7 linked regions of the Homo sapiens genome follow. The protein of the gene in region 2 purifies or fractionates together with the protein of the main gene of each other region. This does not show direct contact. Each region holds a gene or a part of one and is shown on either strand. Other genes may lie near its edges. The genes, in order: BOP1, KLHL6, OBI1, GCN1, MCCC1, ASPM and ALMS1.

Region 1 (4,842 bases), on a different chromosome or scaffold from region 2:
GTCTCAAACAAAAAAAAGCATTTATCCTTTGACCTAGAAATTCTCTTGGAATTTTCCCCAAGAATGGTGTGCACATGTGAGAAACAGCATGTTACTGTCAGGTCAACTGTAAGAGCAAAAGCCTGCAACTGCCCACCCACTGGAGCTGTTGAGGCCGAGCTGCCAGGCACTCTACGGGCACCAAGCACTGTACAAACCAGAGCCATGGCCTCCCTGACAGAACCATCCTGAGACAGCGCACGGCTGCCCCTTCTCTTAAGAAACCACCATTCAAAAACTCTGTGCGAGTTTGGATATGTCTAGAACATCCTGGAAAGAGACTTCAGCACTGGAAACAGTAGTTGCCTGGATGCAGCAACAGGAGCCAGGAGGGAAGGGTAGGAGACTCGTTCCCTGGCACACCCCTCAGGAGCACCTGAGCATCCAAAGGTGCCCTAGAACACCACGTGCAGCTGCTCACTGAATGCCACGTAATTCTACACAGTCCTTAGAAAGGAGGCAGGGTCGTGTGCATGTCAATGCTAAAGGCCTGAGGGCAGAAAGCCAGAGGGAAGCCTGTGGCCCGGCCCTGCAGCCAGAAGCACGCCCACCCTGGGTCCACCCAGGCAGGTCCGGAGCCCTTGGCAGGTCGCCAGGTCTCCACAGGGGCCGCCAGCAGCTGACCCCCAGCAGTCACCGGGCTCCCCGCTACAAGGGCCTCCCACTGTGGGGCTCTCCGCAGGACGCCCCGGGCCGGTCTGGGTTGGTTTGGGGCACACACTTGGAATCAGATTTATGGAGGAGGCTCTCTGAAGGTGACCCATCAGCCACATCGCTGCCAGGATGGCAGAGATGAACAAAAGCCGCAGCTCCCTCCCATGCCAGTCACACAGCCCCTTCTTCACAGCACCATCGGGGCCGGGTATACCCACCAAGGGCTAGGCGGCCTGGGGAGTGAGGCCCTCGCCCTGCCTGACTTCGTGTGTCCCTGAGGTGTCCGTGACATGACACATGCATGCTGCCTGATGCCCAGCCCCATCCCGCCACTGTTCCAGTCTGATGTGATGCTGTGGCTGGGATGTCCTTCAGATGCACGAGGCAGAGGCCACAGGGGCCACGTCTTGCCAACCACTGTGGAGGAAACAGCGACAGGAGGGAGTGGGGGGACAGGCAGAAGCACGTGGCAGAAGAGAAATTAGCAAAAACATCATCTCGTCCTTCAGGGGCTGCCAGGCAGACATTACCCTCACTTACCAAGTAACCCACCGAGGCCCATGAACCATCTGCAAGACCACACGAGTGGCCGTGGCCAGGACCACAGAATCCCAGGTGCGCCCACTGCAGGGCAAGGACACTTAGCAGCAGGAGAAGCTGCTGTGTCACTGTGGTGTGAATTCCCAGAACCAAGGGGCACTGATTCTAGAAGCCGCTCAACGGAAGGGTTCTTGGGTTGAGGACCCACAACCACTGGCAGGGGCATCGGGGGCAGAATCCTCCAGATGGCTGTGGCGGGCGAGGGTGTCTGGCAGAGCCCCTGGTGGCCCGGCCCCGTGGACCCACGATGCGAGTGGGAGGTGGCGGAGATACAGGCGTAAGGAGCCCTGGACTGCCTTCGGGATGACACAGAAACAGGCCTAACCTGAGGCCACTAACTGGGCATGACGGGGCCATCTTGGCGGCACTCTGGGAGGCCTCACGTGGCCACGCTCATGGAAGCCAAGAGAACATGCAGGAGGCAGCACTGGGCTGCCGGCTGAGTTTCCACCTGCAGGGCTGCACAATGGGAAAGGACTCCCACCATTCAAGAGGGGCGCGGAGGGCAGGCAGGAGGGAGTGGCCGCTCAGCAGGCCAAGGTGCCTGGGTGGCTTCTGATGAACAGGGGGGAAAAGGGAGGGGTTCCCACTAAGAAGCTGAAAGCACCCCCACCTCATCAATTCATTCTCCTGACCTGGAAGAATTTAAACCCAGTCATGAGGATCACACTTTAGAACTGAAAACACCCTGACAGGGCCCAAGGTGCCCCTCAGCTAAAGCACAGGACACGCGGGCAGATGCACGGGCGCCATGGCAGGGCAGGGCCTCAGCCCCTCAGCTAAAGCACAGGACACGCGGGCAGGTGCATGGGCGCCACGGCAGGGCAGGGCCTCGGCCCCTCAGCTAAAGCACAGGACACGCGGGCAGGTGCATGGGCGCCACGGCAGGGCAGGGCCTCGGCCCCTCAGCTAAAGCACAGGACACGCGGGCAGGTGCATGGGCGCCACGGCAGGGCAGGGCCTCGGCCTCCCAGCTAAAGCACAGGACACGCGGGCAGATGCACGGGCGCCATGGCAGGGCAGGGCCTCGGCCCCTCAGCTAAAGCACAGGACACGCGGGCAGGTGCATGAGCGCCACAACAGGGCAGGGCCTCAGGCAGGGACTTGGGCAGCCAGCAGCGTGGGGAACTCTGAGGACCGCCCCACCAGCCCGGCCGGCCTTGCCACCTCAGGCCCTGCTGGATGACGGAGCACACAGACCACAGACAGCGGTACTTTGGAAAACACCCTGCATGGGGCAGCCAGTTACGCGGTCACAGAAACCCGAGCAGGGCAATGGGCAGGACAAGCACACACTCAGCAGTGCAGAGGACCTGGTGCTCCAGGGGCCAGGAGACAAGCAGCGAGAAGAGAAGATGGCGCCTCCCTAGACTCCGCAGACACCTCTAGTACCTTTCAAGTACTTGGATATGTTATTATGCGAAAACATTGTTTTGGTTTTTGAGGCAGAGCCTCACTCTGTCACCCAGACTGGAGTGCAGTGGTGAGATCTCGGCTCACTGCAACCTCCGCCTCCCAGGTTCAAGTGATTCTAACGCCTCAGCCTCCCGAGTAGCTGGGATTACAGGCACGCGCCACCACGCCCAGCTAATTTTTATATTTTTAGTAGAGACAGGGTTTCACCATGTTAGCCAGGCTGGTCTTGAACTCCTGAGCTCAGGTGATCCATCCACCTTAGCCTCCCAAAGTGCTGGGATTACAGGCGTGAGCCACCACGCCCGCTGAAAGAATTTAATAAAAAAATCATTAACATGTAAATGTGTAAATCCTTAATTTAAAAAGGGACAGAAGACCCAGAAAGATGTACACCAGACCACTAACTGTGCTCACGGGTTAGGTGTGAGGGCCCTGAGTGGGAGCTTCCACCCTACTGAATGGTGCTGCTACAATATCTACATTATTTTCCAGGATGTTTTATCTCATAATTTTTTTTTGAAACAGGGTCTTGCTTGTCACCCAGGCTGGAGTGCAGTGGCTCTATCATAGCTCACTGTGACCTGGATTCCTGGGCTCAGGAGATCCTCCCACTTTGGCCTCTCGAGCTGCTGGGATTACAGGTATGAGCCACTGTGCCTGGCCCAGTATTGTATCATTTTAAAAACTCAAGAAGGGGTAACGTAGTTGTCCATAATCTTACAAACCACTGCCAACACAGCACATCATTTTTTCTCTGTGTATGTTAGTGGTATAATTAAAGCCTGAATTAAGTGTGATTTTAAATCTTTTCTTCCCAGCAAACAAGCCAACCCAACACAGCTAGCACACAATGAACAAGCCATGGTTCCTTGGCTTCTATCACGGGGACCTCTGCCAAGGCCGTAACTTCCAGAACACCGAAACTACTGGGAGAGTAAATCCTTACAAACGATTTCCAGAATGTTTAGAGTAACAAATGCTGGGCTGGGCGCGGTGGCTCACACCTGTAATCCCAGCACTTTGGGAGGCCAAGGCAGGCAGATCACTTGAGGTCAGGAGTTCGAGACCAGCCTGGCCAACATGGTGAAACCCCGTCACTACTAAACATACAAAAAAAAATTAGCCGAGCCTGGTAGTGGGCACCTGTAATCCCAGCTACTCAGGAGGCTGAGACAGGAGAATTGTTTGAACCCAGGAGGTGGAAGATGCAGTGAGCCAAGATCGCCCCACTGCACTCCAGCCTGGGCAACAGAGCAAGACTCTGTCTTAGAAAAAAAAAAAAAAAATAGGCCGGGCGTGGTGGCTCACCTGAGGTCAGGAAATCGAGACCAGCCTGGCCAACACGGCAAAACCCTGTCTCTACTAAAAGTACAAAAATTAGCCGGGCGTGATGGCATGTACCTGTAATCCCAGCTACTAGAGAGGCTGAGGCAGGAGAATTACTTGAACCCAGGGGATGGAGGTTGCAGTGAGCCAAGATCACACCACTGCACTCCAGCCTGGGCGACAGAGTGAGACTCTGTCTCAAAAAAATAAAAAATAAAAAAAAATAACAAATGCTGTGTTTTAGTTAAATTATGCTTTTCTCCTGTTGTTCTCAATAAGAGTAGGGTGCATCCTCCCCCACCATCGCTGCAACAGGTACAATGTTAAACCCTCTACCCGTCGGCTGCTCAGGCCCCTGAAGCCCTGTGGGGTCAGGCCCAGCTGGGTTCCGTTGGGGCCCCCATGCCGCCTGCTTGAGCCCTGCCATGCTGCTCAGCTCCCTCCTCAGCTGGGTCCTGCCACTGGATTCCAAGCAGTAAAATCCCCACCTCAAGGAAACCCAACCTGTTGCCAGGAGGGTTGCCCGAGCATCGTCTGACGGGGAAGGGCCTAGGCATGTGGATTTTCAGAGTTCCTGGGAACGGCACGCAACTGGGGATGGAAACCAGCGTCCTAGAGCCCAAGCGTGCCCCAGGTGCAGTGAAGGAGGGACGCCGGCCTTGGGGTTCTGAGGGACGGTGGAGAAGGCAGTACAGTGGCAGTCTCAGAAAGCCCAAGGCCACCTGCACATGGGGGACAGCCCTCGAGGGGGCTCCTCGCTCACCCACCTGCACCTGCTCCTCAGTGGTCTTTTTAATCCCACTGTGG
Region 2 (3,998 bases):
GGCGGGAGAGAACTGAGATCCTGTATGAAGGCTGCACGTCCAGTGAAAAGGAGCTGGTCCAGAAGATGCCATACACCAGCAGGGAGGAGCTGGTGCAGGGGGAGGCACTAAGAAAAGCTGGGCAGATGCCTGGCCCCGGCCAAACTGCCCAGACATGAGATTATCACTTAGACCCAGCGGGGAAATTGGAAGGCTCAGCAGCAAAGTTAAGGTCAAAACTCCGTTTGACTCACAGCTGGTGCACTGGCACTCAGATCCAGGGCCCAAGATCACTCCAGAACATTCCCCACCAGTGAGGAAGCTGGGTCTGTGATTCCCAAGGGTTTCCACCAAGAAGTCCTAAGGCAGAACATCTACCTCTGGGGATGCCCAGAGGGGAAGGTCTGAAGCTATTCATGGAACCCCAGATTTCTTTAAAGCCTCTGATTTTCCTTTTCAAATACACAGGAGTCTTGCATTGTAACCAAAACAAACTAAATTGATAACAAGGTTTCCAGTGATTAAAGGGAAGTCTCATACCCCAAGTTACACGTGCCCCAATTTGAGAAGCACAGACCAGGGAGGGCTTCAGAGACAACACAGGAACAATGGTGGACGCAGGCTAAAAGGTCAGACCTGTAATCAAAAACCTAGAAGGGGGTCTCCTGTAAGAAGAGCTGAGGCCAGGCAAGAGAAGAGTCACGCAGTTTGCATATGGGTTGGTAAAAGCTTGCTCAGCGAGGCAATGCATCTTTAGGGAGGGAAAATCTGTCTACTCTTTGACATTCTATAAATCAAACCTGGTGAATTTTAACCTATGAACTTATCTAAAGTCCCATGAACCAAATGAAACGTTTTAAATTTCCACCTTCTAAATTAATTTCTATTCAGACACCACTCATTTATATAAACTAAAAACAGCAAAAAAAAAAAAAAAAAACTTCATGATTGTATATAACACATTTGCATCTGTTCTGTGCATATTTTATTGAATAAATAAAAATTTTATTGGTTTGGTTTTTAAAACCTATAAACAATATTCTTAGTTTGATCACTTAAAACATACAACTTTATGTAACCAAAATGCTTAAAGGATTTTGTTCACTGAGTGTTGGCTATTTATACCTATACATATGAAAATCTGACCTGTCAAAACTGGTTTTGCAGTAGCCAGATTTGAGATATATGTGGATTTCTAAAAGGTTAACTTGTCAAATTATGAGATCTAATACAACACCCAGGTATTAAGGGAAAAAATGATTTTGCAACCCCAAGTTGGGACTTAACATAAGAAATCCTTATGGTGTTGCCAACGTTAAAAATTCTATTGAGCACTTTCATTTTTCAGAATAAAACAGGATAAGCAAATAACTCACAACAGTACCTCATAGTCTTCTATAAATAGCTAAGCTATACTTTACAGCTATAAGAACGTGATATTTGTATTTCCCTGAGAGCGTAGTTTGCTTTGAGTTCAAGGGCATGGTGTATGTGTATATGTGTGTTTCCCGAAGCCATTGAGACCAGAATAGATGAAAGCTAAGACGAGAACATGAATCTGTTGGTGTTCTGATGAGCTTAGCTCCCTGCCTGTTTCAGATCAACCTTGGCAACTGGAGTCCCTTAACCTCATCTACAGATTCCGCTCCACCAAAGACTCTGGGCCACCTTCCCTCTAGGACAGGAGACCCAGCTGAGCAGCTCAGAGGCCCCACAGTAAGTTGGCCCAAATGCTGGGCCTGCTCTAACTTGTGCCTCTGCTCTAAGAAGGGGATTCCTTCCTTAGTTCCTTGCCTAGAATACTCCCTTACCCTTATTCTCCCTCACCCTTCTTGGGACTAGAGCCAAGCTCACAAACTCCAGGGCCTCCGATATCATTTTCCAGACCTGCATCCTTGGAACCTGACCTCCTCCTACCCCATCTTCTTCTTCCCAGCCAGGGGTGCTCTGTCCACTCACAGGCCCTGCCTCAGTCTCCAGTCTGCTGTGCCAGAACATCCTGCCATGTCCTGCCTGAGTCCGAGGGTTCTTTGTCTCTGGGTTTATTCTCAGCTTGGCTTTCCCCCTGCTGATGGTGTGGGTTATAACAGTTACCTTCCTGCAAATGTGTTCGTCTTTATTTCTTGAAATGGATTTTAGATTTTAGAAGTTCTCATCCTTGGCTGGTGCCTAGAAGCTAAAACCCTGATGACTATTCTTAAGTTTCCCCCAAATGACTTGAACTTTCTTTCTCGAAGAGCTACAGACTGGCAGCTTCATATACAGAACCCTAGACCTTCTAACCAGGTGTATCTGTTCCCTACCCATGCCATTATTAGGAATCCCTATTTCTTGAGTGTCAGCTACATGACATTTTCCACAATTCACCTGCATATCTGGTGTTGTAAAAAATCATAAAGAGTGTTTCCATGATTCATTTAGGTATTCTGAAGTAGTCCAGAAACTTGGGTCCTACATTTAGAATCAGGTTTATAGCACAGAAATCCCAAATCCTCACTTTCCCAGCATAGGGTTGACCTGCTGATGGGCTCGAAGTTTGCCTATGGGTCTTATCAAAGGACCGCCATCCCCTCCCTGACTAGGGGCGCTGTCTTTTTGAAGGGAGGCTCCCTGTGTATGCCAGTACCATTGTCATTGGATTTCCTCTCTGGAAGTTCCTCCCTGCAATAGTCTTTGGAGTAAGACTGACTTTTCCTTCACAAATCAGTTCACAAATGGTTCTGGTGGCGATCTCAAAGAGACAAACATGTAAGCCATGGCCACTGGTTGACTTCACTGCACAGCTTACCACCTTGACCCCCTGAAAGGCAATCAAGACTTGGATCCAGCCTCCTCACTTCATACGCATCTCATTTTTAGCTAACTTGAAGAAAATAAAAACAAGAATATTAACTGGTGGCCTATTTACCTGTATTGAGTGTCTAGCGTGGAGATTTGCCATTCGTGGGTGTCCTCAAGGCTTGACAGACATGAAGAACTCCATGAATGTTTGCTGAATTGAACTAGATTACACTGTTACATTGCTTCAGTTGGGAGCTTCCTGATGGTTATTATAGTGCTCATGAGTCAGCAATAGTTTGTTCTAAAATTCCACAAATATGTTTCTATTGCCCTGTGTTACTTTCCACAGCAGAGAGCTGAACTGTCACGCTTCTAAGGCACAGAGCATTTCACACACCAACATACATTTATATTTATCTTCAATAATCTGGCATAAACAGAAATCTCACCTGTAATTTTTCAAGTTTTTAAAATCTGTTTCAAATATTAGCTTCTTCTAACCGTGACTGTTTAATGAAAATTCAATTCACTATCAACTCTAATAACTAACTTCCCAAACTGCTGAAAAGAACAAGCCACACCGGATATGAAATAAAACTCTATAAAGAGAATTGAAATCATATGATGAAAATAAAGTCCATTGGGTAACGCAGTTACTATGTTGTTATCATTGTTGCTTTTTAAATACAGCATATGAAACAGGATCTCTTAACCTGTTTCTCCAGCTTGGGGATTAGAATGAATTTCCAGTGAGCTCATTTGAAAGCTGTAGCTCTTACAGTGAAGGACAGATTCTGTTCTTTAAGTCACAATTGAGCTACACTGATCAAAAAACCAAGTAGAAGTGCTTTTTAAAAGTCTTGAAAACGAAGGCTTCAGGAGGATGGGGTATCAGGAACGTGGACCTAAATCACTGTGTAAAAACTAGAAAGTGTACCATCAAGGAGAATCTGTCGCTCCTGTGTAGGCCAGCTGTGCTCAGGTGTTTACTTTTTTAATAAAACAGTAGTTTGAGTCTCTAGAGACATCTTGTCTATATTGCAGTACAACTGGTGAACACTAAGAGGCCAGGGCACCAGAATGTGCTAAAGGTACAATTCTGTCTGGCAATGACAGTTCCGGTCCAAAATGGGCCATCTTATGATCATTTAAAAAAAAAAAGACCGGGCCCAGTGGCTCACACCTGTAATCCCAGCACTTCGGGAGGCCGAGGCGGGCAGATCACAAGGTCAGGCGTT
Region 3 (4,842 bases), on a different chromosome or scaffold from region 2:
CTTCTTTCTCTTCACTTGAATTTTTTAGCTGTGCAACTTGAGATTCTAGTTCCTCTATATACTTATCACTTCGTTCCAGGGCTTTCTTGAGGCGATTGGTTTCACGCTCATACTGTTCTACTTTGGACTGAAGAGCAGCAACTGCAAACCTTCCAAACCTACAAAGAATGGAAAGATAGTTAATCTTATAACTCAAGCTTTTTTCTTTTCAAGGTTTGAGAGTGCAAACTGTCCCAGGCTATTCTAATTTCACCTAACAGTGACATTTCAGACCACTCAATGAGTAGGGCAAATGCCAGATGTATATTTTCAAAAAATGGTTTCCCCACTTACATAATAATAAACATATGATAATAATAGCAAAACCTAATAGGATATTTTTGTGGTTAAATCAGATCTATGGTAGCAGAGAGGCAGAAATGTGCTGATGATTTCCCCTCGAAGAGCTGGCTGTATCAATTCAGCTCATATATGCATGAAGAGTTATCCCCTAAAACAATGGCAAAGATTTATGATAACATTTGAACAGTGGTCTACATCTTGAAATATTTACATTCAATCATTTTCCTATCATACAGCAGTGTTTTACAATACATTTCTTATATAATGTCACCTTGTCAAACATAAAATGCCAATTTGAAATTCAGAAATCTTAGCAGTCCCAGGAGGGGTGGTTTTAAATACTTATTTGGGCCCTTTCAATTATAGCCACCCTTGATCTGAAGCTTTTCTGTGGCTTTTCAGAGCACTGGCCTTTAATTTATGTCAGCACTACTTATTTTTGGCATTTTACAGCTGTGTGGGACATCTATCTCATTTCTTTCAACTTTGAAATATGAAGTCAGTGCTTGTGATTCCAATATACTAGGCAAAAAAAAAAATTTTTTTGTACACTTTCTGAAAGAGAACATTTTGGAGAGTGACTGAAAAAGAATTCCCTTATTCACAAAAAGTCTACTCCTTTTACACCGGGATTATCTTGCTGTTATTTCCACCAAGAATGAGTACTGTGTTAAGCTCAGGAAACAATTTTTGAGTACCTAGTATAGGTTAGGTGGTATATTTGGGGCTGGGAACACAAAAGATAAAAAAGACTGTCTAGCTCCAAGGGACATAAAATATCTACCTTAAATTCAATCTTATCACCAAAAATAAATTCTATCTTTCAGGAAACTTATGAGCCAATAAATAACATAATCCCGTGAAAAATACCTTATCTCCTCCAAAATTCTTTTCAAAGCCTATTCTTAATCATCTTTTTGATGATTTATATATTGGCCCATTTCTAAGAATTAAGGGATTGTCTGTTTGGAGGAAGCTATGAGAAGGTGACTTTCAAAAATTATTTTTATCTTTGGGTTTATCTTTTTCTTCCTTTTTTCCCCTAATTTGAAAAATAATTACAATTAAGAACATGTATTTAGTATTGAAAAAAAAAACTACAAAAAAAGCAGAAGCCAATAGCAATTGCCCCTCTTAGAATCAACCACAACATGTTTTCAACTCCCACTTAATGCCCATCACCTCCTAAACCACTAGCCCAATTCATTCCCCATCTCAACCCCTACATAATCCCTGCACTCTTATCACTGAAGGAAAAAGCAGAGGCAAAGGTAAATATAGAATCATAAAATCTCAAGATTAGAAAGGGCTTTAAAAGACATGATTGCTGAATATTGATTTACTCACTGCAATTAACTGAACCCCCAGAGAGAGCACGCTCCCTTCAACTTCTAAAAAAACACAGCAAAAACCACAGGTATAACAAAAACAAAAGCAACTATAATAACAAGCCTCCCCATTTTAAAGACAAAGTTTACTACTGTATTTGGTTAAATGAATGATGGGAATTTTTCTTCTTTGTTAAAAATGTTTTGGCTTATAAATGTAGTACTTCACAGAGTTGTAGTTCTGCAAGAGAACTTTTAAAAAGTGGGCAAAGACCTTTCAGTACATTAAGTACAAATGTTTGTTAGTTCTTGATTGTAACTACTCTGGCATAATCAAATAACCCACATTTTTAAATGGAAAAACTGTAGTATGTTTATTTAATGCCAATAAGCAAAAGTGACAGCCTTACATTTGCTTATCAAGATAAATTTCTTCAAGTAAAATTTTTTATAATAAAGGTATCTCCTCAGATAAAAAAATCAAATGACTTAAAATCAAATAATGCTACTACATAGTAAGTCAGTTGCTACCAAAGGATATCTTTGGGAACTTAGAGGCCTACACACAGAAAGACTACTCAAAAATAAAGAATGCTTCCCAAAATATTACCAGCTTCTTGTTCCAGGGTTTTAGCTTGGAATTTCAAATATAGTATCATCTTAAGATACTGTATTTGCCTCTCTCTCTCTATATATTTTTTTTTTTTAGAAATTATGTTTTTAAAAGAAGTAACATATGGTTTGGAGTTGAAGTCAATGAGAGCCCTAAACATAATTTTTGTGTTATTTCAGAGAGAAGTAACAAAGGCCAGTAGCAGATCACATATGAGAGGCACAAGCAAGCAGAAGTCACTGATGGAGTTAGGCTGTTTTCTAAAAGGCCACTGCCCCCAATTTCCTTAAGTTTCCTTTCAATACTCTATAAATCTATAATACTTTCAGTGATCAGGCCCTTCTCCCATGCTAATAAGGGACCTGTGCTGGTTGGCAGACTGACAGAAATGTATACTAAAAGCCATGCAACTGATCAATTAATCAATTCATGTAATTTATTTGCTTTCTTTCTCCCACGTTAGAATAGAAGCTCAAGGAGAGCAGGTAGTTTGTCTTATATTCACTGCCAGATTCCTAGAACAATTCCTGGTATACGGCACTTGCCTGTTGTGTATTTCTTGAATAAAAGTCATTCTCTTACTTTAAGATACACTAGTGCCTTACATTGAGACAGGGTTGACACCACAGGATAAGCTAAAGGTCCTTGGCCTTCTTTTTACATGTTAAGTATTATGACAGTCACTGTATTACTAAAGTAAACATGTTTTGTTTACTACATTTGACTGTTTACTTTATTTCACTGACACCCAGGAAAGCAACAGAGACTGACATATGTACAGTACAGCCTTTTTTGCTACAGGCTTGACATTCTATACTGCTCCACCCCAAAAAACTTCACCTTAGTAAGACTGCAAATAGATGAGACTTTTGACATGTGTCAGGAAATTTTCAGCTTATCCAAGATAACTATATTAAATTTGGCAAAGGGCAATTTACCTTATTATAGAGAAATAACAATTAGGGATAAGTATCTGATGCTATACTTCCATAGAAGAAGGACATGAGCTTATTTATCTTTGGGTTTTAATACTTTTGTATTCACACTAATTCTAGATATTTGGAGTATACAACACTAAATGAAGCTATGCCAAGGCAAGCCGGAGGGATTTCTAATATCATTTACCATACTTCCTCCTTTTCTTGAGTAAATTTCAAAATGGAGTATTTTTATAAACATTCCATTAGAGACCAAAAGGCTTTGATTTTCAAAGTAGCAGTGATGGCCAAAGGCTTCATTGTGCCAGAAAAAACACTGCAGAGCAGTTTGGGAGCTACAATTGATATCGGAACTGTATTCTGCCAGAATCTAACAGAAGCTTAAAGGATTTTTCAGCTTGCAATATTAACTGATACATACATTCTGGATGAGAGAGAAAAGGATGCCAGTTCCCCTTGTCCAAATAGCTCTAAGAGATACAAGATCATTTCTGTCCCTAGTAAAAGAGAAATGGAAGTCCTATTGGTATGACCTTTGAGGTGGTATAACTAAACTAAAGAGCATCTCTAACAACAAAAAGTTCCTAAGACCATATTTTCTCATAGTCTATCACACAGAAAAACAGGACGTGTTTGAAGAAAACAAATGTGGTAAAAGAATACCACACCTGAGTACCAAAAAACTAATAAGCTCTAGTGCTACGCTACTATCCTTGAGCAATTCACTTTGCCTTTCTGGTTCTCAATGGCAATTCCAACAAAATGGGTAAATGCAGCAAGCCCAGTGGGTGGCCAAGACTGCCAAAATTCAGAAATGCCTTCTTGAGGAGGAACAAGGGGGACATTGGGGAAGTCAGTCCACTTGCCTCATCAAACTTTGACTTTATATGTTTCCCTCACTTGGTAGCTGAGGTAATGAAACAAAGCGAAAGCTATCTTTGGACCTGGACCAGCTTTTGTGGTGTGGCCTATCTGACAGGTTTTCAGTGTTGATATCCTTGCTTTATATGGTTCCAATATGCACAAATTTCAGTTACCATGGTTTAATTTACAAGTCACCCAACAATATGGTTCAAATTTCAGTTACCACACCATTATTAATGAGTAACTGCATGAAGTAAAACCTTCACTTCTAGCTTTTCAGTTCAAAAAACACTACATAAATAATAGACGTGCTTCATGATCAGTGACCCATCAAGTCACTTCTTTCAAGGTCAGTCAGTGATTAGTCACTGTGCATTTACCTGTTTTTCAGTTAACATACAGACAGCAAAGTGTGCAGCTGGGCTGCTCCTTGTCTCCCAGTAAAAAACCCGCATGACATTTCACAAAAACAGTTAATAAAACGACAGAACTGGTCAACAAAGATGAAGGTGTAACAAAGAAATAAACAATGATAACATTGGAAGTGAAATTGAAATCAAATGTAAATGTAGTTATGGAAGAAATCACTGACTGTGGGAATATTACAACAATGTCAGTCCATTCAAGAAATTCTAGATATGCCAGAAGCACTTTGTAGAGGCAAACTTATTGACATGGATGAGAAAAGTGGTGGTGAAAAGGATGAAGATGTCTAGAGAAAATGACAGGCTGACAAAACACTTCGCACTAAAGCAAT
Region 4 (4,842 bases), on a different chromosome or scaffold from region 2:
CAAAGTATTGGGATTACAGGCATGAGCCATCGCACCTGGCCCCATCATGCTTTTCATGAGACGAGGCAGTGGGAGTTGCAGCTTTTGGGCTTTTTTTTTTTTTGGAGATGGAGTTTCGTTCTTGTCGCCCATGCTGGAGTGCAATGGCACGATCTCAGCTCAACACAACCTCCGCCTCCCAGGTTCAAGCGATTCTCCTGCCTCAGCTTCCCGAGTAGCTGAGATTACAGACATAGCGCCACCACACCTGGCTAATTTTGTATTTTTAGTAGAGACGGGGTTTCTCCATGTTGGTCAGGCTGGTCTCGAACTCCTGACCTCCGGTGATCCGCCCACCTTGGCCTCCCAAAAGTGCTGAGATTACAGGCGTGAGCCACCGCGGCTGGCCAGCTTTTGGGCTTTCAAGGCTGCTGGGGGCTGGGGACTGAGTGAACACAACTCTGGGTTTCCTCTGGGCAGCTCTCCTGGGATCTGCTATGTCTGTTTGGGTGTCATGTGAGATTTTATTTGAAGAAAGGGCCCTGCTCGGAAAGAAGTCTGAAAACCATGGGAATGTATGTTTTCAGGTACTGGGCCAGTCACCCAAATCTTTTTTTTTTTTTTTTTTTTTTGAGACGGAGTCTCACTCTGTCGCCCAGGCTGGAGTGCAGTGGCATGATCTCAGCTCACTGCAACCTCCGTCTCCTGGGTTCACGCCATTCTCCTGCCTCAGCCTCCTGAGTAGCTGGGACAAAGCCGCCCACCACGCCTGGCTAATTTTTTTGTATTTTTAGTAGAGACGGGGTTTCACCGTGTTAGCCTTCATCTCCTGACTTGGTGATCTGCCCGCCTCAGCCTCCCAAAGTGCTGGGATTACAGGCGCGAGCCACCGCGCCCGGCCCCAGTCACCCAAATCTTAATCTGCTCCTGAAAGCTAGCACATCCGTGGTGGCAGAGAAGAGCCTGTGGTTTAAATATTTCCATGCTGAAGAAGAGCTGAAAGACAAATGCTCACAGCACATCCTGGTGAGGCCCCCCAGGCTCCCACCTGAAACACCTCTTCACCCTGCCGCATCTTGAGGAGGTTGACAATTGCCTGGTCGCTGTAGGCCCTGACCACGGTGTTCTTATCCTTGGTGTTGTCAAGAAGAGCCTTCAGGATGGGCTTGATGGCCTGGGGGTCCAGGGGAGGCAGTGGGTCCTTATTTGCCCACCAGATCATCTTCTCAGCCACCAGCCTGATGTCGCTGGATGGGTTCTGCAGACACTGTAAAAAGAACCACAAACAGGCTTTTGGATAGGCATGTCATCTATTCCTTGAAGCAGCCCAAATGCCCAGCCTCGACACTCTCCCTACAGCATGAACACTGACCCCCCCTGCTCCTGTGGGAGGGTCCCAGCATGACTCGACCCTGGTTTCCTGCACCCTCATCTCATGCCACTCTCCCCTTGCTCACTACTCTCAGCCCGCATGCGTTTTTACTTCCTCCAACATCCCAGGGCCTCGGGCCTCTGCCCTGGCTGGTCCCACAGCTTGGGCCGTGCTTGCCCCGGATCCTCTCTAGGTTAGTTCCTTCCCATCCTGCAGGTCTCAGCTCCCATGTCATCCTTTAGAGGTGCCCCCTGCCAATCTTATCTATATCAGGGTCCTCCCCATGGGCTCCAGGGATCCTGTCTGCCTTGTTCATCTCTACACCTTCAGGATAATGCCAAGTGAACAAGCGGGTGCAGGCTGATGTCATCACAGACGAGGCTCAATCGAATCAGGCCCCTCAGAAACTCCGTGGGTTCCCGGTGCTGCGGGGGGAGGCAGTCACTCTTGGGAACCTCATTACTCAAGGCAAGGTCCATGCACAGCACCACTGACACTGTTGCTGAGAGCTGGTTAGAGTACCAGGCATGGCCCCATCTCACTAAAATACACCCTGGCTCTGACTTCTGTGCACAGTAATGCTTCAGAAGCACGCCATATCACACGGGCCACAGGAGCCCTGCTGGCACATTCCTTGGCTTTCCTAACTAGGGCCTGGCACATAGCACAGTAACCACACCAAGAAGTGCTGGGCCAACTAGAAGAGGAAGGAGGGAAAAGAGAGGTATTAAGATGGGAACCCAGGTCTGTATCTAATTTTACAAAACTACGGTGCCTAGAAAGAATGCCTAAAATAGCGATTCCTAACTTGATTCAGAGTCACGGGTCAATTTGAGAATCTGACAAAAAGTTAGGCTTTATTGCAGTGTAAAGCACACACAGAAACCCCCTACATTCCATCCCTAAGTGTTCAGCGATCTCCTGGAGGCCGTCCACGGAGAACTAGCACACAACTAGTTGAGGGCGCACTGCTGGTGGTCTCTGATCCTAGGACCTCCTCACAAGCCAGGTGTTAGGGCTTAAACACATGCTTGGCCCCCACTCACCTTAACGAACAGGCTGGAAAGTTTGGCCGGCAACTGCCCTCCGCCTGTCTCGATGTGGTGTCTCATGAGAAAGCCCATGCCCCGGACCCCGCTCACCGCAATGGGGATCTGTGGAGAACAGACAGCGCTAGACGGGAGGCCCCCCACCCCTTCCCCAGAGCCAGGAAAACCCCAGTTCCTAGTAATCTCCAGGACCCTCCACTACATCACCACCACATCACCCCTTACACCATGACAGCTCTCAGGCAGGCTGCCCCGGCTGAGGCAGATGAGTACAGTCACTGGTTCCCAGGAACAGGGATCCAAGACCTGACCCAGAAGGGGCATCTAGATTCTTCAACCCAAATTCCTTGTTTAGATGATGAAACTGGGGCCCAAAGGGATCAAGTGCTGGTCCAAGGGCACAGCAAGTTACTGACAAAGGTAAAATTAGACCCAAGCTTCTTAAGCCCCAGTCTGGGGTCCACCCGCGCTGTGTCCACAAGGTGCTGCCTATGGGATGTGGCCTATGCCTATGGGATATGGCCCGAATGCCTTACCCTGTCCGCCGTGGCACTGCTCAGGATCATTTCCTGAACATCACTGCTATATCTGCCGGCACAAAGTCTGCCAGGAGCCACATTCACAGCCACGGAAAGTGCCAGGCTCCGCCCGTGCCGAACCATCCAGTCAATGCCGGACACGTCCGCTGGGTGGAAGGACACGACTGGGATCAACCGGTATTTTACAGCATGTCCCCAGCACCCATGAGGCCCATGGGCCCACCCCGCTGGAGACCAGTGTGCTGACCCAGAGCACAAGGAAAACTCCAGGCCACATTCACATGGACCTCCCTGCTATCTTGGCAGAAGCTCCCCAAAGTGGCACATTAAGGAAAGTAAGGAAAGCCTGCTCATGAACCACTCCGGGCTTACAGCTGTGTTCTTTGAGCAGAGACACTCAGGGCTACGGGACCACTGCAAATTCAGTATTGTTTGTTTGTTTTAGAGACAGGGCCTCGCTCTGTCGCCCAGGCTAGAGTGCAGGGGCGTGATCAAGGCTCACTGCAACCTTCAACTCTTGGGCTCAACTGATCCTCCCACCTCAGCCTCCTGAGTAGCTGGGACTACAGGTGAGTGCCACCACCCCTGGCCTGGATTTTGCTTTAACTGCTGGATTCCCAAGGAAAGGACAGTCCAGTTGCTAAAAGATCCTCTGAGGGAGGGAGGGAGATGCCCGTCGACTCTTCGCTAGGGCTGAGAGGCCCAGGTCCCTGAAGGGGAACTCTCCAGTGTACTTACCCAGCAAGCACTGCTGTAGAACGGCACTAAGCTCCTCTTCAGTCAAAAAGGCACACAGTTCCCCTAGGCACCCGGCTGAGGAGATGCGAGTGTTGTCCTGACAGGGAAGAGAAGGGAGTGAGGGGGTGCAGGGAACAACACCAGCTGTGTGGGAACCAAGGCAGGCAGCTCTAGAGCCCAGGATGGACAGCAACAAAGAAGGTGGAAAAGCCAACTCAGAGACTCAAGATCCAGTCCTTCCTGTAGGCACTCGTGCTCCCCTGCCAGATTGGGCTGCCACTGGTATGGAGTTAAACATTACACAGCCAGCACTTCACTTAATTATAGAAAACCCCAGTGTGTATGCATATGGTAATCATCCTTGTAATAGCAGTAATAACTGTATTTACATAGCATCTTTCTTCTTAGGAAGGCTGAATGTTTCATATTTATTATCTCAATTACTATCAACAGCCCTGTGAGGCAGGGAGGGGCGGGAGGGGCAGGAGGGGAGGCACCTGCCCCCAGCCACCAGGGAAGCCGGCTAGAGACGGCCACTCTGAGCTCCTTTCTCCCACAGAGTTTGTGTCATCTTGTGGCCAGAATGACTCCTGCTATCTCCCTACTGCATGAGTGCCCCACTGCCACCGAAATTACTTGGGTTCATCCTAGGAAGTCAAACTAAAGCCACTAATCAAGCCAAGGAAGATAAGGAAAGGCAAGCACTTCCTGTTCAAATCAGAGCCAGGTACGCGAGCGGCTCCGTGCTCCTCCCTGGCCAGCTAACTATGGAATACCAAGAGAGGATTTTAAGTTATGTTCCTTATTACAGGTGCCAACTCAACATGTCCCCAAAACAAACCACCAACCAGGGACTCAATAACCCAAAAAGCTAATGCCAGGCTGGCACCCTGAACTGCCACCTTCAATCTGAGTGGAGGTTCAGAGGGTAAGAGAATGGACTGCCAGCAGTTTGGGCCTCTGAGCTCGAAGCAGAAGCCCAGGTGCCAAGCTAAAGCTGGCTCTGACACCGACTCTCTCCAACTTCATCTATTTTAAGCTGCACTGTGGTAAAATGCAAATATGTTTCAATACTAACTTTTGCTTGCACTGTACACATGACTCTGTAGAAGCCCTGAAAGACTGTGACCAAGACAGCAGACTTTCCTGTCTGTCCCCACAGAGA
Region 5 (3,731 bases), 470 kb from region 2:
GCTAATTTTTGTATTTTTAATAGAGATGGGGTCTCACCATGTTGGCCAAGCTGGTCGTGAACTCCTGACCTCAAATGATCCGCCTGCCTCTGCCTCCCAAAGTGCTGGGATTACAGGCATGAGCCACTGCGCCCAGCCTTTCAAAAGTATTGATCCTTGGGCTCTACTCCTGGAGATTGCAATTCAATGGGTCTGGGGAAGAATTTTTTCAAATCTCCCCAGGTGACTGTACACATGCTCCTTGACTTACGATGGGGTCAGGTCCAGATAAATCCAATGTAAGCTGAGGAGCATATTCAACGTGTATGGTTTTGCACCATTGTCAAGCTGAAAAATCCTTAATTGAACCATTGTAAGTTGAGGACTGTCTGCAATATTCAGCCAGGGCTAAGAATCACTGACCTACCATTTGAACCATCTAAAAACCTAAACAGCTAATTTAATTTGATTGCGGTTTTCACTTTGAAACTGATGCCTGGCATCCTTGGTTCGGCCTTAGAACCAAGATAATACCAACAGTTAACATTAGAAAATACCAACAGTTAACATTCCAGAAACACCAACAGTTAACATTCAGTTGGATTATCTTAGAAAATACCAACAGTTAACATTCAGTTGGATTATCGCCTGATTCCAAGCTATTGATAATTTCATTAATTTCAGAATCAGAAATGACAGGTGCAATTTCACAAAGTTAAAGTAAAACTCTTTTCTACAAGAAGGATAGTTTGGTTTTGTTTCCTACAATTAATGCTTCGTCAATCATGGCTTTTCATATTTAAGGTGGTATTAACTTACAAAATAAGGCAAAAGAACCATTAGGTATGATTGCTCCCAAAGTCCTCATAGCAAATGAACTCATGATTTCCTTACCTCCATCTTCATGGCGATCATAACCATGAGGGAATCTCCCGCTTTCACTTTGTCTCCAGCTTTGACAAACACCTTGAGATTCAGTGTGACAGGTTAATATTTGAAAACACAGAGGTCCTAGATATGTTCATCTGCTTCATTATAGTAACCATTTTACTGTCTATATATACTCATAACATCATGTTGCAAACCATGAATATAAACAATAAAACATAAATAAAAAGAAAAAAAACAACACAGAGGTCCTTTGTGGTCCACAGATTTGGTATATAAACTTACAGAGCAGAAGTAGAGCCCATGTGGTTGTGCCATCTGCCAAATGCACTGGTCAAATCAGAGGCCTACAGCCCAAATATACAGGTCAAATCTGAGACCTACAGCCCAAATGCACTGGTCAAATCAGAGGCCTACAGGTCAAATGCACTGGTCAAATCAGAGGCTTACAGCCCAAATGTACAGGTCAAATCTGAGACCTACAGCCCAAATGTACTGGTCAAATCAGAGGCCTACAGCCCAAATGTACTGGTCAAATCAGAGGCCTACAGCCCAAATGTACTGGTCAAATCAGAGGCCTACAGCCCAAATGCACTGGTCAAATCAGAGGCCTACAGGTCAAATGTACTGGTCAAATCAGAGGCCTACAGCCCAAATGTACTGGTCAAATCAGAGGCCTACAGGTCAAATGCACTGGTCAAATCAGAGGCCTACAGCCCAAATGCACTGGTCAAATCAGAGGCCTACAGGTCAAATGCACTGGTCAAATCAGAGGCCTACAGCCCAAATGCACTGGTCAAATCAGAGGCCTACAGCCCAAATGTACTCGTCAAATAAGAGGCCTACAGGTCAAATGCACTGGTCAAATCAGAGGCCTACAGCCCAAATGCACTGGTCAAATCAGAGGCCTACAGCCCAAATGCACTGGTCAAATCAGAGGCCTACAGGTCAAATGCACTGGTCAAATCAGAGGCCTACAGCCCAAATGCACTGGTCAAATCAGAGGCCTACAGGTCAAATGTACTGGTCAAATCAGAGGCCTACAGCCCAAATGTACTGGTCAAATCAGAGGCCTACAGGTCAAATGCACTGGTCAAATCAGAGGCCTACAGCCCAAATGCACTGGTCAAATCAGAGGCCTACAGGTCAAATGCACTGGTCAAATCAGAGGCCTACAGCCCAAATGTACTGGTCAAATCAGAGGCCTACAGGTCAAATGCACTGGTCAAATCAGAGGCCTACAGCCCAAATGCACTAGTCAAATGAGAGCCCTACAGGTCAATCTGGCATTGCTGGCACTGTCGTCCATGGGTAGCACTGCTTAGTCCCCTGTCCCCACCCACAAAACCACTTAGTTTTACTTGAATCACATGAATATACTCCATGTATTTTGAAATCCTTTCATTTTTTTCAAGAATGTAGAAACAAGACACATTGCCAGTAGGGAAGGACTAATATACTTAAATGTCTTCCCCAGAGAGGGAAGAGGGATGAGGGTCTTGACTGGTTTTCTTGTTTTGGGGTTGTCTAGGGCTAAGTATAGTAAGTGTGTTTGAAGTCTTCAGAGCCCTGTGTAGTAAATGTGAAGACAATCTTCATGCAACAGAATCAAACTTATTAGCAACCCCAGAAAGAGATTTCTATTTTCTTTTGTATACATATAAATGGACTCATAGATCCTATATGGTCTCACTTTCGTTTTGGTTAACATGGCTACTAAGTGGGAGACTAACAGAGTTGTGCAGAGATGCCTGCACTATGAGAGGCCTGTGGGAACTGAAATCAAATGAGCTAAAGGCAGATCCAGGTCTCCTAGCTCATACCCACTTGGGGTAAATATTTCCAAACGAGAATAGTGGCTGAAATCACCCACACTATTTAAGTAGTTATTTTCTTCTTCTTCTTTTTTTGTTCCAAGCATATACAGTTGAGTTTTTATGATTTAAGTGTATTTGAGGAGACTCTACTGTATTCAAGTATATAAAAGGAGACTACGGATACTGATCTATCACCATTTGATGTTATATCAGTATGTGCTAGGGTCTAAATGTCTATATCCCTCCAGAATTCATTTGTTAAAATCCTGACCTCCAGGATGATGGTATTTGGAGGTGGGGCCTTTAGCAGGTGATTAGGTCATGAGGGATCTGGCCTCATGAAAGAGATTAGTGCCCTTATGAAAGAGGCCTGAAGAGAGGTCCCTTGTCCCTTCCACCACGTGAGGACACAGAGAAAAAATGGCTGTTTATGAAATCGGTAAGTAGACTCTCACCAGACACTTAATCTGCTGGTGATTTGATGGATTTCCCAGCCTCTAGAATCGTGAGAAATAAATTTCTATTGTTTAAAAGCCACCCAGTCTATGGTATTCTGTTCTAGCAGCCTGAACTGACTCAGACAGTATGGACTGCAACTGTGAATTATATACTGCATTCAACACCAAACCGTACTGTTCTTCACCAATACCAGCCTTTTACATTAACGCAGATGCAACTACGTACACTAAAAGAAAATGTCATTATTTCATGAAAAATTTGCTGCTATTAAATTTAACATTCAAAACCAGCTTTTTTGAATAATGCTTAATGAATGCTCAGTTTTAATCATAAAAAGACAATTTAGATTATTTGTACTTTGATGCAAATGCCTGCCTTCAAAAACAGCAGTCTTTTTCATAAATTAGGTAAATGGGTATTTTCAGTGAGGACTGTAATAAACAATTTGAATCTGTAATAGATCCTCTTGTTTTTGTGAAGTGGATGCTTTCCAATGAGCAAGGTTTAGAAAGGGAAAAGGACATAAATGACAAGTTTAACAAAGCCACGTATTAAAACTTACTGAACATCATTCTACAGATGTCATGT
Region 6 (4,842 bases), on a different chromosome or scaffold from region 2:
GTCTCCTAAAAGCAGCTTGTAATTGAATGGCTGCAGCTCGTTTCTGCAAATAGTTGGTGCGCTCAATCTTTCCTTTCAGATATGCTTTGTAGTACTTCTGGATGGTTAGTATGGACTCTTTTCTTCTTTTATATAACTTTTGGGCTTGAAAGCACCGAAATCTTTTCTGAATGATAACAACACAAGATCTAATATAAATATATTTCCGTAATTCTTTATGCATTCTATACCATGATTGTATGATAATAGCAGAATTTTCTTCTTTAGCTTGTTTTCTTAAATGCCATTCTCTAAAAGCTCTTTGCAATATTACTGTAGCTTTTACTTGTGATTGCATTTTACGTTGCTTCCATTTTCTGAACATAGATTGGATTATAAGAGTTGATGATTTTAGCATTTCATATCTTTGTTGATCTTGTTTTCTTCTTAAATAAGCACGCCAATGCCTCTGAATTGTAACTGTAGCCCAAAGATATCGTTTATAAGATGTAACAGCAATTATCATTCTTATCCTAGATTGCAGGATGATTGAATAATATTTCAATTTCAGAAATCTTTGTCTAGTGGAATATCTTCTCCAATATCCCTGGAAAAGGTAAGAAAGGACACAAAGTAAAATAGGCATAGCTTTCTATATTTAACACTTTTCAAAATACTAATTTTTCTAACATTCTGCTTAAAAATAAACACATTGAATTAGAAAACTAATTATTTTTGTGAGATATTTGTCTCTTTTGTTTTTAGTTTAGGTTTTACATTGATATACCTGTAGCCAATTCAGAAATCCATCCAAATCTTCATTATATTTAAATACTGCATTTGTATGCCAGAATCATAAGAAACATAAGCAAGTTTATGTTATATTACAAGCAAAAGAGTCAAAATAAAACTATAGTAATATTCTTTGCTATCTATTGATTCTAAGTAATTTCCTATGAGTTTATTTCTGGGCCTTATATGGTCCCCTTACTTCAATGTTTCTAAGCTACCTTATAATGACTAGAAACTGTTTATGTGAAGGATCCTGCATTATCACATTACAGGCCTGATAATATAAATATAGGAATTTAGGAATAAATAAACCAGATCACTCTCAGAGTCATTATTTTCATTAAGAATAAAATTACTTCCTTTTCCCAAATTTAGGAACTATAAATACATGGCTTAAAAGTAGAATTCTAGAAAGACTTGAGAAATGACAAAACTTTTGTCTTTTGAAAAGCCATGGTTACAATGGCTAATCCAACTGTATGTTGGCTCAACAAAAAGAGCTACAAACTCTCAAGCTAATTCCAGTTGCTGGTATCTAAAATGGTCCCAGGCTAATGGTAGTCAAGTTCTAGATGTTTTAGCAATAAGACCATTCCTTTGTACAAACACTCCAAACATTGCTGAGATTGGGGGTGGCATGGAGAGGTTGTTCTCTACTACATCTTACTTTTTCTCGCATATAAGTAGAGTAATATAGGGACTGGGTACCTCGCTCTCCTATAGCAGTATCGAGTTTGCTTGCAGCTATCACTGGCCTAAGCATACCTATCCATGGGTGAGGAAGCTTAAGGAGAACATGCACATCCCTTTTCCTGACCCTTTTCCTGTAAGTTTTATTGTCTTCTTCCTCTACTAAATGTTACCTGAGGTTTTGTTCATACTCTTCAACCTGACAGGAAATGATTGTATACATTTTATCTTACCAAGAAGAGATGCACAAGTTGTCAAAATATTTATCCAACAACAGTCAAACTTATTTGTACAAAAGTATTTTGAAAACAATAAACTCTACATAAAGTATTAACTTGCTTTAAATTAGGGCAAAGTAAAGCAGTAATAGTACTCAGAAATTCAGATATTATTTTTCTTTTGAGCACCCACCCCCAACAGATATTTCTATGTAAAATCCTCAAACTAAGAAATTGAAGAATCAGTGTGTACAGATTGTTTTATACTTTAATAATCACTTTTTCTACATTACTATTACTACTCCATTACTGAAATGTTAATCAATGTTGATATATAACATGGAAGATATGATCATCTCCTCTCCTAACAGTTTTGCTTATTACAATAGCAATTTTTTCACCATTGTCATACAATTCTTAAAAATAAATAGCTTTTACTAAGGAACACATTACATACAATTTTCTCACTTAATTCTCACAAAAATACATTAAGTTGGCATTGTTTCTTCACTTAAAGAAAGGAACACTAATGTTACAAAACTTTTTGCAAAGTCCCACAGCAAATAAAAATAATTGATCTTAGGATCTACATTATTACACCAAAATCAAATGTTCTTTCTACTCTACCACAGATATCTGCAGCAGGTTGAGTGCATTAACAGCCCAATTCTTCATCTCTCCCAGTAACTATAACCTGTGCCATACTTTGTTTTTCCTCATACAAAAGAGTTTCTCTGCTTGAGATATGGGCGCAGTCATGGAAAGAATGCAGTAGAGCAGTGTAACTCAATCTTCAGTTTTCTGGTCAGATGATGAAACAAGGCAGCCCTGAGGAACTAGAGGGTACCAGGGAGATGGTAGAGACTGGGGAGCTCAGGGAAGCAATCTGATAATGTTGTTTATGAATTTCTAGGTTCACCACCAAGTTGTGCACAATGTGAATCTAGACCACAGTAGGCTATAGACTTTAAGAATTGAATAAGATACAGATCACAATCTAGATCCCAGACTGGCTACTGGGTGTTACATAATGAAACTGATATGATACAAATATCACTCACTGTAAAGGCTTTCAAAAAGGAACTGTCACTGAAGCTACGCTCATGGAAGGCTGATGAGAACAGGTGGCCTGAACCCAATCAAGTGAATTAGCTGCTAAAACTAAAATATCAACATTCTCCATAGGATTTAAACAAAACATAGAGTCTGATAACATAACATTAAATTTCCAGAATGCAATTAAAAATTATTTGACATACAACATAACAGAAAAATTTCAACTCTCACAAGAAAAGATAATCAATAGACACCAATGATGAGATGACAAAGATACTGGAATTGGAATTAACTGACAACGACTTTAGAGCAGATAAAGTAAAAATGCTACAACAAGTTGAAACTAATGGAAAGATAAAAAGTCTCAGTAAAGACATCAAAGATATGAGTAAGAACCAAGTGAGAATAGTAGAACCGAAAAACACACTAACCAAAATAAAAATTCACTGGTATGGCACAATAGCAGAATGGAGATGACAGCCAAGATGGCAAATATCTCAGCTTTGTGGGCCAATTCTGTTGCAACAAGTCAATTATGCTATTGTAGTACAAAAGCAGCTCCCAAATAATACATAAACAAATAGTTGTGACCATATTCTAAAAAACTCTATTTATAAAAACACATGGTAGGCCAAATTTGGCCTGCAGATATACCAACCTCTGACCATGATAGACCATATTGTGGATCATAAACTAAAGGTTATCAAATAGGAAAGAATTGAAATCACAGTATGTGCTCTGGTCATAATGGAATTGAAGAAAAAGTCACTAACAGAAAAATAATAGGAAAATCTCCAAACATTTAGAAAGTAAATAACATATTCTGAAACTTTAAATCATAGAAAAAGCCTCAAGAGAAATTAAAAACTATTTGAACTGAATGAAAAAAAAATACCATATCAAAATTTGTAGTATGTGGCTAAACCTGTATTTAGAAGAAAATTTATACCATTAATGTGTTACATTAAAAGTGGAAGGACTCAAATCAGTTACTCAAGATTATACTTAAAGAAACTATAGACAGAAAAGCAAAATTAATCAAAACAAGAAATAATAAAGACTGAGCAGAGACCAATGAAGCCAAAGGGTTGTCCACTGAAAAGATCAAGAGAGTTAAAACTCTAGCAAGACTGACAAAGAAGAAAAGAGAAGATACAAATTATCAATATCAGGAATGAAAAAGGGAATATCACTACAGACTACCCAGGCATCAAAAGGATATTAAAGATATACTTTGTATATACATATGGTAAATTCAACAACTTGGATGAAATGGACCAATTCTTCGAAAATTAGAAACTGCCAAAACTCATCAAAGATAAATAGTCCTATACAAATTTAAAAAACAGAATCTGGCAAGGTGTAGTAGCTCACACCTGTATTCCTAGCACTTTAGGAGGCCAAGGCAGGAGGATGACTAGAGCCCAGGAGTTCGAGACCAGCCTGGGGAATTTAGTGAGACCCTATCTCCACAAAAAATACAAAAATTAGTTGAGTGTGGTGGTACATGCCTGTAGTCTCAGCTACTTGGGAGGCTGAGGTGGGATGATGGCTTGAGCCTAGGAGATTGAGGCTGCAGTGAGCTGTGTTTGCACCACTGTACTCTAGCCTGGGCGACAGAGCAAGACCCTGTCTCCAAAAAAAAAAAAAAAAAAAAAAGTCCAGAGAAGAATGTTTGAGATGATGAATATGCTAATTGTCCTAATGTGATCGCTATACAGTATATGTATCAAAACATCACTATGTGCTTTATGAATATGCACAATTATGTCAAGTAAAAAAAGAGGAAAAAAATAAAATAAAATAGAAATTTCCACTCTAAGATAGTATCACTGGTGAGTTGTATAAAATAATTAAAGACAAAATAATAACATGTCAACAATCTCTTCCAGAAAACATAAAAGAACGCTGAAACTTCCCAACTCATTACACAGATGCAAAACTCTTCAATAAAATACTAGCAAGTGGAATTAATGAAATATCAATGCATATAAAAAATACATAACTAATATTTGAATTTTATCCTTGGAATGTAAGTTTACAGTAAGATTAGAAACCCAATAAATGTTAATATATCCATTGAAGCAGAAAAAGTATTTAATGAAAC
Region 7 (3,633 bases), on a different chromosome or scaffold from region 2:
GCAGGTAGACTGCAGTTGTGAGACTCTCCACAATATGTCCCCTTCCTGCCACCTTCTGTGCGTTGACATTGCCTTGGGAACATGCCCATGGCTGGTGGCCTGGGGGAATACTGTTATAATGTGAAAGCAAGTCCATAGATTTCTGGTTTAAAGGAACCCAGTGAAGATGCTAACAAGTTCTCCTGAGGAGGTGCGCCCTGGCTGGGAATGGGAGGAGCTGGCTGGCACCTGCCACCTGGGCCTCCCAGGACCAAATCTAACTGCCCTTGGAAGGTGTCTGGATGCCACAGCCTTGGGCCTAGAGAGAATCATGCTCATCATTCCTCATCAGACTCCATCTTGCCCTGGGTTCTTTGCAGACCCAGGTTTGAGACAACAATTTGTTTCTATTCTGAATAATAATGTCTCACAAGAGGTGGAAATAGTCACATTGTTTTAGAGTTTATGTAAAGAGGGGCTTAGAGGTATTAACCCTCTCATTTTACAGGTAAATTGGCCAAAAGTGCTTCATTACCTTGCCCAGCAAGAAAGGGAAGAACTATGAGTTGACCTCATGCACCATGGGTTCTTTTCCCAGTGTCCTCTTCATGGCAGGGAGCCCAGGGGGCAGGATCTGAAAGCTCTGAACCGTGCTTGAGGGCAGGGCCTGCTCTTGGATCCAGCCTCCCAGGAAGCCTTCTCGGTGGATGACTGGCCCTTGCCAATCTTTGTACTGGGGTTTGCTGAACTTAGAGTGAGGCTGTTGAAAACCTTCCTCCATTACTTTGGGCCTTAGCTATAATTCCAGGCCACATGAAAAAAAAAAAAAAAATCCTGTTACATTCTGATCCAGTTACTGGGTTAAATGCTTTATCTCATTCATTGACTCATCTTTTTCACAAGTTGTCCTTTATGTTGTAAGTGTTGGTTTCACGTGTAATGATAAATGGTCTGAGGCTTTAATCCCAAAACCGAGTGTGGGTGGAGGAAGATCCATCAGCCAAGGCTAGTGGCCTTTCTCCCCAGCCTACACAGAGAGTCCCTGGGGGAGCTGGACTGGGGCTGAAAGGAGGCTCTGGACCCAAGACACCTCTCCTGCTGCAGTCTCTGGGTGCACCCGGTGGGCATCTAACCAGACACCGTCTCCTCAAAGCCCACAACAGTGCTCCCACTACAGCACATTGTGTTTCTAAAGATACAGGCTACATTTCCTTCTAAGAGCCCATTTCCCTCAACTGATGCATTTAGACACCTCGGTGGAGACAATGCATAGCTCCTTGCATCTCTCCAGATGGGAAAGAATTGTTTACTATGAGTTAATCTAAAGTTTTTATTTTCTAAAAGTATAAAAACACATACAAAAAGGGACTTATTCTTGAGAAATGATCATATCATTGTAACACACAGGCCATTGGACAAGGCCACTATGCAGAAAGTATTGCTCCCAAACCATTAGGAATTTTAATCACCACTTTGTTCCAGACTCTTTAGAAGTTACTATTTCTAAAATACACATGGACAAAGAATAAGCTTTATTCAACCAGACTCACAAAAGTAAGGATTCTGCTTCTCTAGGTTCATAAAATAGAATTCCAAGGCTCTGAGGAAAATAAACTTGTGTCAGTCCCAGGGAACTTTTCTCCCCAGAAGTTGATTGGTCACTCTCTGTAGAAGAAAAGAAAGGCAGGAAAGAAGTTAGATATTACTGCCATCAGAGGCAGATGCCTCTCCTCCCTGCATCCATGTCACCAAGGAGAATCAGTGTGGTCCTATTCAAATCTTGTTCATTTTACTCTGCTTCAGAAACTATGGTCGTCATATAAAAAATACTTCACGAAAGGTTCAGGAAAGAGGATCTGTAATCAATATCTATTATTTCTATAGAGACACAGATAATCCATCAGTTCCCACATACAGTAGCATAAGGAGAGGCCTGGCCCTGCGATGCTGACACACCAGACAGGTGGTGTGGTGCCTGGGGCCTCCACCTGAGGCACCCGCCTGGGTTCTGGGGCCTGCTCCAGAAGCAGCTCCCATCCCACATCAGTCTGGTGACTGACAGGGTGAGAAGGAAACAACTACAGTGAAGTATATGGCCCTTCAGGCATAGGAGCCGGTCTGGTTTCTCAGAGAATTAACTGGTAACACCAACCCTGCCCCGTGAGGTTCTTGGACTTGCAGCAACGCTGACTCTACTGGGACAATGGGCAGGGCATGGTGACAAGTTGGAGGCCTCTGACCATCCAAGTGGACAACTCTTATGCCGCAGTTACACATTTTCCAGTTTAACAGTTCTAAAGGTATCTGACTCACCAATGAGGGGCATGAAATCACCACCTGGGACTCTGGAATGGAAACCTGATAATTCTGGTATTTCTACCATGATATGTCAATGAACTCCTGTGTGTGAAATTTGGTTTCACTGCAAACGAATGCATGGAAAGGGCCTTACACCATTATGGATGGGGAGTTAAACCTGATTTGAAGTCTAATTACAGATGCCTTCTTCCAAATTTCAACACTGGTCCAGTGCATTCTAAGTTCATTCCTCAAATGCGGTTCATTCTGACTTCACACTCAACAGGCAACGTGTTTTCTCCATTTCTCTTTCCGCCAATAAACCTGATCCATCCCACTCTAGACAGAGGACCCACTGACCTTTTTATATAGCTGGGCTCGCAGCCGGTATGACTTATATTCTGATTTTCTCTTCTCTTCTTCTCTCTTTTTCTGTACTTCTGGAAGCTGCTCATAAATCCTTAGAAATGGCACCAGTGAAAGGACAGAAATCGGGGAGGTTACCAGGGTGCAGAGTCATGAGATCTCCTCTCATCATCCCTCCCTATACCTCCCACTCTCCAGGAGCTCATCCCTCTCAGAAAGGCCCTGGGCCCCGTTAGATACTCCAGCACAGAAAACCCTAGCCCGGGGCTCACAATCTGGAAGGGGAGATAAATACAAACACAATAAAATCCTAATAGTGCTTACATGTGGAAAGAAGTGGGATAAAGGGGGGAAAGGAGTGAGATAAATGAAGGAGAGCTGAACTTCTACTTTCTGCTCTACATGCAAAAATGGACTGTTTCAATATAAGATAATGAACAGCGTTACTATTGTGTTTGGAAACACAAGTGAAATTATGGAAAAGTACTAAAATGGTCACACCTATAAAATGTTCTAGAGGAGAAGAAACTTGGTCTGGTGGAAGGAGGTTCGGAAAGGCTCCAGAGAGGAAATTATAGGTAAGTTGGGTCTTAAGAATAGATAGGAGCGCTGGGTGCAGTGGCTGAAGCCTGTAAACCCAGCACTTTGGGAGGCTGAGGTGGGTGGATCACGAGGTCAGGAGTTCAAGAGCAGCCTGGCCAAGATGGTGAAAGCCCGTCTCTACTAAAACCACACACACCAAAAAAAAAAAAAAAAAATTAGGTGGGCATGGTGGCAGATGCCTGTAATCTCAGCTACTCAGGAGGCTGAGGCAGGAGAATCGCTTGAACCTGGGTGGCAGAGGTTGCACTGAGCCAAGATCAAGCCACTGCTGCACTACAGCTGGGTGATAAAGTGAGACTCCATCTCAAAAATAATAATAATAATAAAAAAATAATAATGATGGATAAGAGCAGAAAGGGAATGGGGAGAAGGACAGAAGACACTCAA

The links.
Region 1: the proteins of KLHL6 (region 2) and BOP1 purify together in Homo sapiens (affinity purification with mass spectrometry, with the first as the bait; one large-scale study listed by BioGRID). This does not show direct contact.
Region 3: the proteins of KLHL6 (region 2) and OBI1 purify together in Homo sapiens (affinity purification with mass spectrometry, with the first as the bait; one large-scale study listed by BioGRID). This does not show direct contact.
Region 4: the proteins of KLHL6 (region 2) and GCN1 purify together in Homo sapiens (affinity purification with mass spectrometry, with the first as the bait; one large-scale study listed by BioGRID). This does not show direct contact.
Region 5: the proteins of KLHL6 (region 2) and MCCC1 purify together in Homo sapiens (affinity purification with mass spectrometry, with the first as the bait; one large-scale study listed by BioGRID). This does not show direct contact.
Region 6: the proteins of KLHL6 (region 2) and ASPM purify together in Homo sapiens (affinity purification with mass spectrometry, with the first as the bait; one large-scale study listed by BioGRID). This does not show direct contact.
Region 7: the proteins of KLHL6 (region 2) and ALMS1 purify together in Homo sapiens (affinity purification with mass spectrometry, with the first as the bait; one large-scale study listed by BioGRID). This does not show direct contact.

Annotation. Positions count from the first base shown.
Region 1 is NC_000008.11:144,284,293-144,289,134, forward strand, and holds part of BOP1 (ribosome biogenesis protein BOP1), read right to left. Parts: coding exon 4,803-4,842; intron 1-4,802. UniProt on the Homo sapiens protein: Component of the PeBoW complex, which is required for maturation of 28S and 5.8S ribosomal RNAs and formation of the 60S ribosome.
Region 2 is NC_000003.12:183,486,604-183,490,601, forward strand, and holds the end of KLHL6 (kelch-like protein 6), read right to left. Parts: 3' UTR 948-3,998; downstream 1-947. UniProt on the Homo sapiens protein: Involved in B-lymphocyte antigen receptor signaling and germinal center formation.
Region 3 is NC_000013.11:78,616,965-78,621,806, forward strand, and holds part of OBI1 (ORC ubiquitin ligase 1), read right to left. Parts: intron 362-4,842; exon of another isoform or gene 159-361; coding exon 1-158. UniProt on the Homo sapiens protein: E3 ubiquitin ligase essential for DNA replication origin activation during S phase.
Region 4 is NC_000012.12:120,128,249-120,133,090, forward strand, and holds part of GCN1 (stalled ribosome sensor GCN1), read right to left. Parts: intron 3,775-4,842; coding exon 3,678-3,774; intron 3,086-3,677; coding exon 2,937-3,085; intron 2,506-2,936; coding exon 2,398-2,505; intron 1,247-2,397; coding exon 1,028-1,246; intron 1-1,027. UniProt on the Homo sapiens protein: Ribosome collision sensor that plays a key role in the RNF14-RNF25 translation quality control pathway, a pathway that takes place when a ribosome has stalled during translation, and which promotes ubiquitination and degradation of translation factors on stalled ribosomes.
Region 5 is NC_000003.12:183,016,393-183,020,123, forward strand, and holds part of MCCC1 (methylcrotonoyl-CoA carboxylase subunit alpha, mitochondrial isoform 1 precursor), read right to left. Parts: intron 946-3,731; coding exon 874-945; intron 1-873.
Region 6 is NC_000001.11:197,104,600-197,109,441, forward strand, and holds part of ASPM (abnormal spindle-like microcephaly-associated protein), read right to left. Parts: intron 587-4,842; coding exon 1-586. UniProt on the Homo sapiens protein: Involved in mitotic spindle regulation and coordination of mitotic processes.
Region 7 is NC_000002.12:73,607,579-73,611,211, reverse strand, and holds the end of ALMS1 (centrosome-associated protein ALMS1), read right to left. Parts: intron 2,738-3,633; coding exon 2,638-2,737; intron 1,645-2,637; coding exon 1,600-1,644; 3' UTR 1,296-1,599; downstream 1-1,295. UniProt on the Homo sapiens protein: Involved in PCM1-dependent intracellular transport. Required, directly or indirectly, for the localization of NCAPD2 to the proximal ends of centrioles.